Linked DNA regions of Homo sapiens: region 2 is linked to region 1. Evidence: fine-mapped expression QTL. A gene starts in region 1. The other region holds a variant in brackets. All regions are shown on one strand. Distances are between the middles of the regions. Region 1 holds the start of DDX3X (DEAD-box helicase 3 X-linked). Region 2 has its middle 53 kb from the start of DDX3X.

Region 1 (4,387 bases):
GACTCCTTTTATAGATGAGCAAATTGAGACCCAAAGCCGTTAAACAACTTGCCCCCGACAGTGTGATATTCTCTCCCTATCTCGTTCGAATTTCCGTCTCGATTTTAAAAATTGAGAAGGGAGAGAAGTTATGTGTATAGTAAATTATGTGATGAGCACGAACTATTTGAATTCTGGCAGCAGAAGACCTTTTGTGGGGGTGGTGGAAACCACTGCGTTTTATTTAATTTCGTAGGGCTGAGGGTCAGAAGAGAGGGGAAAGCGGTCATAAGAAACTACGGATGTGCGGGCGCCGGCTCAAAGCCGGGAATCCACTAGTAAACACCTTCTTCTATTTAAGGGCCTGCGGCACCGAAGCCGGGACTTGGGGTGGCCTGCCTAGGAGGGAACCACAGGAAGAGGTTCCACCGACGGTAGAAACCCGGTTCCTCCTGTTCCTCATCCACCGCAGCGGCCTGAGAGTCACCCCGAGCCCAGGCCGGTAACCCCGCTGCAGCCCCTCCGGCAGGCCCAGGTTGCACCGGCTACAAACATTCCCGACACCCTTGGGCCCTAGAAGAGCCGTTCGCCACCCGCGGGGTCCCCGCAACGCCGGTGGTCACCGGCCCTAAGCCGCTGGGCGCCCCGCGGGAGGAAACTAGGGGCAAATGTAGCCCGCATTCCTGCGGAGAGCCGGGGTCCCGGGAGGGCGCGCCAGCGGCGGTTCCGGATCAGCGCGTGTCTGTCTCATTGTTCCCTCACCGCGGGGGGCGGGGGCGGAGGCGCGCGCGCACACGTCGGGGGGTTGGCCAGGAGGGGCCATTGTGTGTTTCTAGGCGGCGCCCCCGCTGCCTAGGCAACCGCGCAGGAAGGTGTCCGGCCACCTGCGCGCGCCGCCGGCTCCCCTCCATTTCCCCCCGACTCCCGCCCCGGTCACCATCCTACCCTCCTCCCTCCTCCTTTCCCCTTACTCCGCTCCCCTCTTTTCCCTCCCTCTCCTCCCCTTCCCTCTGTTCTCTCCTCCTCTTCCCCTCCCCTCCCCCGTCCGGAGCACTCTATATTCAAGCCACCGTTTCCTGCTTCACAAAATGGCCACCGCACGCGACACCTACGGTCACGTGGCCTGCCGCCCTCTCAGTTTCGGGAATCTGCCTAGCTCCCACTAAGGGGAGGCTACCCGCGGAAGAGCGAGGGCAGATTAGACCGGAGAAATCCCACCACATCTCCAAGCCCGGGAACTGAGAGAGGAAGAAGAGTGAAGGCCAGTGTTAGGAAAAAAAAAACAAAAACAAAAAAAACGAAAAACGAAAGCTGAGTGCATAGAGTTGGAAAGGGGAGCGAATGCGTAAGGTTGGAAAGGGGGGCGAAGAGGCCTAGGTTAACATTTTCAGGCGTCTTAGCCGGTGGAAAGCGGGAGACGCAAGTTCTCGCGAGATCTCGAGAACTCCGAGGCTGAGACTAGGGTTTTAGCGGAGAGCACGGGAAGTGTAGCTCGAGAGAACTGGGACAGCATTTCGCACCCTAAGCTCCAAGGCAGGACTGCTAGGGGCGACAGGACTAAGTAGGAAATCCCTTGAGCTTAGACCTGAGGGAGCGCGCAGTAGCCGGGCAGAAGTCGCCGCGACAGGGAATTGCGGTGTGAGAGGGAGGGCACACGTTGTACGTGCTGACGTAGCCGGCTTTCCAGCGGGTATATTAGATCCGTGGCCGCGCGGTGCGCTCCAGAGCCGCAGTTCTCCCGTGAGAGGGCCTTCGCGGTGGAACAAACACTCGCTTAGCAGCGGAAGACTCCGAGTTCTCGGTACTCTTCAGGGATGAGTCATGTGGCAGTGGAAAATGCGCTCGGGCTGGACCAGCAGGTGAGCCGCAAGAACCCCACCGGGCTGGCTGCTGCGTGAATTCCTCCCCTGACCTAACCTGGCTAATGGCGCAGCGCTAACCGGCACCCTTACTTTTCATTTTCTGGGTGCCCCGGGCTGGCGGGTGTGAGTGCCCCGGGGCTATAGAGGGATAGGAATGTTGGTTGGGGCTGTCGCCCGGGCCCGGTCTCGGCCCGCTGTATTGTCCCCGGGACGAGCACAATGGCGGCTTTTGTGTGTGCGTGCGCAGGCGGGCGGAGGGGGAGGAAGTGCGCGCGCTCTCGCGGGGACGCGCATGCGCGAATCCCGACTGATTAGTGACCTGGGGGGGTTTGCGGGAGTGCGCAGCGCGGCGGGACGCGACTGGAGGCCCTTTTGGCTTGGAGGGCTTCGGCCTTCACGGCTGGCGCAGCCTGGATTCCCGTCCGGAGGACCTGGCGGCACCCGGTGTTTGCGTGCCTGCGAGCAAGGGGTAGAACGCGGCCCAGGAATGTGGGAGGGGGCGGCCTTCGCTCGGGGTAATGGCGGCGGCCTCTTTTGTGTGGTGCTGGGCGGCGCTGTGGCTCACCTCCGGGAGACGGCGGGTCTCGGGCGGGCGAAGGCCTGGAAAGGAGGATGGAATGGGTTTCTTGTTTTTTCCCGGGTTCCTTCCGCTGGCTTTTTCGCTTCAGCCCAGGTTCCGCAGGGTCCGGGGGCCCTGCGCCGCAGCCGGGGAGGCTGCGTTTCCGGAGTGGAAAGTTTTGTGACGCAGAAGATTGGGGAGGAGTGGGGGAGGGGTGGGGGCGGGGAGGGGAGGCAGGAATTGGCCGCTGCGCGCTGGGCCCTGGAGATAGAGGTTGGACGTGGCGGGGAGGTTAGGGAGCCAGCGAGGCCCTTTCTCCTCCTTGCTTGCCCCAGATTGTCCCTGTGTGGTATGTTAGCCGGGAGTCCCGCGTTGTTTTTCTGGGGTGGAGGGGTCATCGCGGGTTGTGGTAGTGTCTTCGTGTTAGTGACTGTGATCCAGGAATCCGCCATTGGAAAAACACCCGGCTTAGGGGGGAAGTAAACAGTTTTGTTGTTGACTTGTTGCTATCTGTGGAGTAGAATCTTGCAATGGGTCCCAGGCCCCCGGGTTTTTTCTCTTAGCCAGAATCCCCTCTTCTAAGGGTTTAGGGGCAGAGGAGAGAAAGATGTGTGATTTGAGAGGAGAAGGTTATGGACTTTGGTGGCAGGAAGTCTGCATCCCACCGCAACAGTGGCACCAGGCTTCAGATAAGCTCTTGTGTGGGTTATGCGGAGCTTTTAAATAAACTACTGTCTACTGTGATTAGGGGAGCGTTGATTTCACAAACTCCGGAATAATCCTGAGACGAAGTTTAGTGGCACAAATTAATTGAATACATAGTTTAATGTAGTCATATGTAATATTTTTTAGGAATTGATCTGTTCCTTTGGAAGCATTTTCTACCCGTTAATGAACCAATTATATTAAATCCTCTAATTGCTGACACATGTTGAATTGAACAGACACTTTAACAACCTACCAGCAGCACAGAGTATTCCCAGTTTTACCATTTTCCATTTAGCTATAGTGTCCTTTTAAGGATTCTAGGCAACAGTGAACCTTATTTAAAAAGCAAAATTGTGCTATAACAAGTGCAAAAGGAAAGTTTGTGTTCCTACCGTGCTTTAAAGTATTGATGGTAGCAAGAGAAAGCGCAGTGGTGTTTTTGCTCATAGAAATTCTGGAAATTAGGTGCCTGAAGTCTTACACTCATTTTTTAAAAGTATAGCATCTGCTTCCAGTTTTCAGTGACTCCATTGATGATGCATGCGGTTTGGCCGTATCATACTGAGCTTTAAACACAAGATTTATAAACATGGTATGTAGTGCATCTTTTGCAAACAGGTTGGCAGCGGTACTGTGTGACTTGGTCTTTTGTGGCTTTTTTGAGAAAAATGAAACACTTTGCATGTATAGTTTTTTCTCCCAACTACTTGTGAGTAGTTCCTGGTTATAAAACGTTATGAAGGTAGCACATAACCCTTTTCTAGAATGAAGAGGCTTTTGAGCTACCAGTGTAAGGGGATAGGTAGAAATAGAGATGAAAGGCACTAAGATGTCCTACTCTTTAAGAGCATTGAACGCCAGTTGTGCCATTTATTCAAAGTCATCTTTGAACTTATGTTAAAATGGGGTAAAAACAGGTAACTACTTCAGGCCGGGCTCATGCTTGTAATCCCAGTGCTTTGGGAGGCCAAGGCAGGTGGTTCACCTGACCTGAGGTCAGGAGACCAGCCTGGGCAACATGGCGAAACCCCATCTCTACTAAAAGTACAAAAAGTAGCCTAGCGTGGTGGCGCACCCCTGTAATCCCAGCTACTCGGGGAGGTGGAGGTTGCAGTGAGCCGAGATCACATGACTGAATTCCAGCCTGGATGACAGAGGGAGACTCTGTCTCAAAAAAAATAAAAATAAAAACAAACGAAACAGTCAAACTACTTAAGAGTTGTGCTTAACATAGTGTTCTGTAAGTGGTAGGTATATTGCTATTTTTTTGTTGTTCTTA
Region 2 (4,387 bases), 53 kb after region 1:
TTCAGTATTTAAAGGGGAAAGAACAGCCGGGTGTGGTGGCTCAGGCCTGTAATCCCAGCACTTTGGGAGGCCAAGGCAGGAGGATCGCTTGAGCCCAGGAGTCCAAGACCAGCCAGGGCAACTTGGCAAAACCTCCTCTCTACTAAAAATACAAAAATTGGCTGGGCATGGTGGCTCACGCCTGTAATCCCAGCACTTTGGGAGGCCGAGGAGGGTGGATCATGAGATCAGGGGTTCAAGATCAGCCTGGCCAAGATGGTGAAACCCTGTCTCTACTAAAAATACAAAAATTAGCTGGGCGTGGTGCAGACACCTGTAATCCCAGCTACTTGGGAGGCTGAGGCAGGAGAGTTGCTTGAACCTGGGGGAGGAGGTTGCAGTGAGCCAAGATGGCGCCACTGCACTCTAGCCTGGGTGACAGAGTGAGATTCTGTCTCCAAAAAAAAAAAAAAAAAAATTAGCCGGGCGTGGTGATGCATGCCTGTGGTCCCAGCTGCTCAGGAGGCTGAGGTGGGAGGATCACCTGAGCACAGGTGGTAGAGGTTGCAGTGAGCCAAGATCATGCCACTGCATTCCAGCCTGGGCATCAGAATGAGAGCCTGTCTCAAAAAAATAAATAAATAAATAAATAAAAATAAAAATAAATGAAAAATAAAGGGGAAAGGGCCAGGCGTGGTGGGTGGCTCACTCTTGTAATCCCAGCACTTTGGGAGGCCTAGGCTGGCAGATCACTTGAGGTCAGGAGTTCAAGACCAGCCTGGCCAACATGGTGATACCCCATCTCTACTAAAAATACAAAAATTAGACGGTCATGGTGGTACACGCCTGTAATTCTAGCTACTCAGGAGGCTGAGGTGCGAGAGTTGTTTGAACCTGGGAGGCAGCAGTTGCAGTGAGCCAAGATTGCACTACTGCACTCCAGCCAGGGCGACAGAGGAAGACTCCATCTCAAAAAATAATAATAACAATAAATAAATAAAAAATAAATAAAGGGGAAAGGGCAAGCAGGAGGGGAAGAAAAAAAAACAAGGTGGGTAGGCAATGAGGCACCTGGTTACATTCTTATGAGACTGTGAATCTACATTTTACATGTGAAAAGAAAGGGGAAGGGGAGGGAGTCAACTATGCATTCCTCCCCTGCTCAGTAAATCTACATTTTACATAAGGTAAAGTAAGCAAGTGAAATTACAGCTATCTGTTTGAGAATGAAAGGAAAGCAGTTTTTGCATGACTCAGTTCCCAAGCTTAACTTTCCCTTTGGCATAGTGAGTTGGAGTTCCATTTTTCTTTCACGCTAGGTATCTACCCAAGAGAAATGAGACGTATGTACGCATAAAACTCCTACACGAGTGTTCACAGCAGCATTATTCATAATAGCCCCAAATTGGAAACAACCCAATTGTCTACTGAGAAAAGAAAAATAGCTCAGAGCAGGCCCAGAGAGACATGAATAGGGACTTCAGTCATCATCTCCCCAGCCCCCACCGCATGCCTGGGGACAATTGTTTAAAGTCACTTTGTTCCTGACTAGCTGGCTCACCTATTATCTTCATGTACCTGGGATTTGTGATATAAAGACAAATTTTTACTTTAAAAATCCACTTGTAGGCCTGGCACGGTGGCTCACGCATGTAATCCCAGCAGTTTGGGAAGCCTAGGCAGGTGGATCACTTGAGGCCAGGACTTCCAGACTAACCTGGCCAAACATGGCAAAACCCCGTCTCTACTCAAAATACAAAAGTTAAAAACAAACAAACAAACAAAAGTTAGCTGGGCATGGTGGCGTGTGCCTGTAATCGCAGCTACTCAGGAGGCTGAGTCAGGAGAATCTCTTGAACCTGGGAGGGAGGTGGAGGTTGCAGTGAGCTGAGATCACGCCACTGCACTCCAGCCTGGGCAACAGAGCAAAACTTGGTCTCCAAAAAAAAAAAAAAAATCCACTTGTAACTGCTGCTAGGCAGAATGTTATGTTCAGGGCAACCTGAATCTGTGCTCTCAGATAACAATTTTAAAGCTTGGCCCAAATAAACTCTCTACGTATATTCATTTTGCCCCAGCTTCTTCCTTTTAGGTTGACACCATCAAGTGACAAATGGATAAACAAAATGTGGTATATCCAAACAGTAGAATATGATTCATCAGTGAAAAGGAATGAAGTATTGATACATGCCATAACACTGGCGAAACTTGAAGACCTGTTAGTTAAGTTTATGGATACAAAGGTCACATATTATATATTGTATGATTCCATTTATATAAAATGTCCAGAATAGGCCGGGCACAGTGGCTCACACCTATAATCCCAGCTACTTGGGAGGCTGAGGCAGGAGAATCACTTGAACCCGGGAGGTGGAGGTTGCAGTGAGCCGAGACGGTGCCATTGCACTCCAGCCTGGGAGACAGAGCTAGACTCCGTCTCAAAAAACTAAAAAGATAAATAAAAAATAAAAAACAAAAATCCAGGAGCATTG[C/T]GGCAGGGGATATGGAGCCAAAGGCCATTGCGACGACATGAAGAAAGTAGAGTTTGAGAAGGAATAGCCTGGCATTTATGGAAAAATGTCTCAGAAGCAATGACTAGCAATAAAAGGCTGATTGAGAAACTGGGGCAGGAATCCAGAAATGAAATGATGAGGGTCTAGGCCAAAGCCTTGACAGGGAACTGGAGAGAGAAGATCCAATTTACAGTCTAAAGAGGAAACTGGCACCAGATTACATGGTCACATTAGTGAACCAAACTAGGGCCCACTTGCCTGGAGCAGCAAAGCCAAACACTGACATCGGGATAGCAGCGAAAGTGAGACATTTATTGCAGGACACCAAGCCAGGAGAATTGGCCAGCTAATGCTTGAGACTGGAACTCCATGATGACTTACAGGTAAGGGTTTTTAAAGGCAAAGAGGTAGAGGTTACAGGCAAAGTCATAAATCAAGGCAGGACATCCTCAAGTCCCGGGATTGTGGGGGTGGGGGCACAGGTCGTAGGTGGATTCAGAGATTTTCTTTTTTTTTTTTTTTTTTTTTTTTTTGATACAGAGTCTCCGTCTGTTGCCCAGGCTAGAGTGCAGTGGCACGTTCTCGGCTCACTGCAACCTCCGCCTCCCGGGTTCAAGTGATTCTCGTGCCTCAACCTCCCGAGCAGCTGGGATTACAGGTCCGCGCCATCATGCCTGTCTAATTTTTGTATTTTTAGTAGAGACGGAGGTTTCACCATGTTGGCCAGGCTGGTCTCGAACTCCTGACCTCAAGTGATCTGCCCGCCTCGGCCTCCCAAAGTGCTAGGATTATAGGCGTGAGCCACCGGGCCCAGCCAGGATTCAGAGATTTTCTGATTAACGATTAGTTAAGGAGGTGAAGCTTTGTCTAAAACTTTGAGATCAACAGAAAGGAATGTTCACTCTTGCTTGTGGACATGACCTCCTCTGGGCCCCTCAAAAAGAAATTTAGAGCAGAGGTCAGAGTTCAACCTTCAGTTCCCCGTTATCTGAGGTTTACATGCCAGCTGATCCTTGTGATGGGGGCCCGAGGTTCCGAAAAACAACTCAGGGACATATATCAAGATGTTATCTTCAATTTCTTTTTTCTTTTTCTTTTCTTTTCCTTTATTTTATTTTATTTTTTATTTTATTTTTTGTGACTAGATCTTGCTCTATTACCCAGGCTGGAGTGCAGTGGCGCAATTTCGGGTCACTGCTATCTCCACCTCCGGGGCTCAAGCCATCCTCCCACCTCAGCCTCCTGAGTAGCTGGCACTACAGGCATGGGCTATGTGATCTTTCTGTGCTTTAATCTTCCCAGTTGTAAAAATTAAAGAACAGTAGTGACTACCTCCTAGGTTGTCCTGACAGTAACCGAGAAAATCCATGTGGAACAGCAGAAACACTAAGAAGAATGCAAATGTGCTTTCCTCTCTTGTATTTCCATACAGACGACCTTTTCCCTGGGCAGCCTGTAGCCATCTGCTTGGGAGCAGGGAAGGTTTTTCCAAAGTTCTTGAGCAAATTAAATATAAATCCTAAAGATCTCAGATCACAATGTCTCTTCCATGAGAGAAAGAAGATACCCCTATGCCAACCTCAGTCAAGCCGTGAGACTTGTTGCCTTTTAGTAGGAGGATATGACCTGCAGAAACTGAAAGCCCAAAAGTCGTCCCTTCCGGTTCCCAGGACTTGTAGGCAGAAACATGGAGGCAGGACCAGGAGAGGTGTGGCAGTGGGTCCCAAGGTCACTCTTCTGGGCATATGGCCAGAGAAAGGGTAGAAAGTTGGGTAAATTGAAAGAGAAACCAGAAGCCAAGGTCTCTGGCTAGATTCAAATCTGGGACCCTGAGAGGAGATTGTGTCCCACACTGCCACCCCCCCCCACCCCCCAACCTGGGGGCCACATGGAAC

The links. PIP is the estimated chance that this variant, and not a neighbour inherited with it, causes the effect.
Region 2: its variant is fine-mapped to the expression of DDX3X in whole blood (TOPMed, PIP 0.98).

Annotation. Positions count from the first base shown.
Region 1 is chrX:41,332,460-41,336,846 of GRCh38, forward strand. DDX3X (DEAD-box helicase 3 X-linked) reads left to right here and starts at 1,703. Exons shown (of 17, transcript NM_001356.5): 1 at 1,703-1,838. The coding sequence starts at 1,794. RefSeq lists a silencer at 524-1,013 and an enhancer at 1,104-1,333.
Region 2 is chrX:41,385,303-41,389,689 of GRCh38, forward strand. No RefSeq gene overlaps it. Among named protein-coding and RNA genes, the nearest start is that of DDX3X, 53 kb to the left of the region's middle. RefSeq lists an enhancer at 201-718. The variant C/T (reference allele first, on the strand shown) is at 2,472.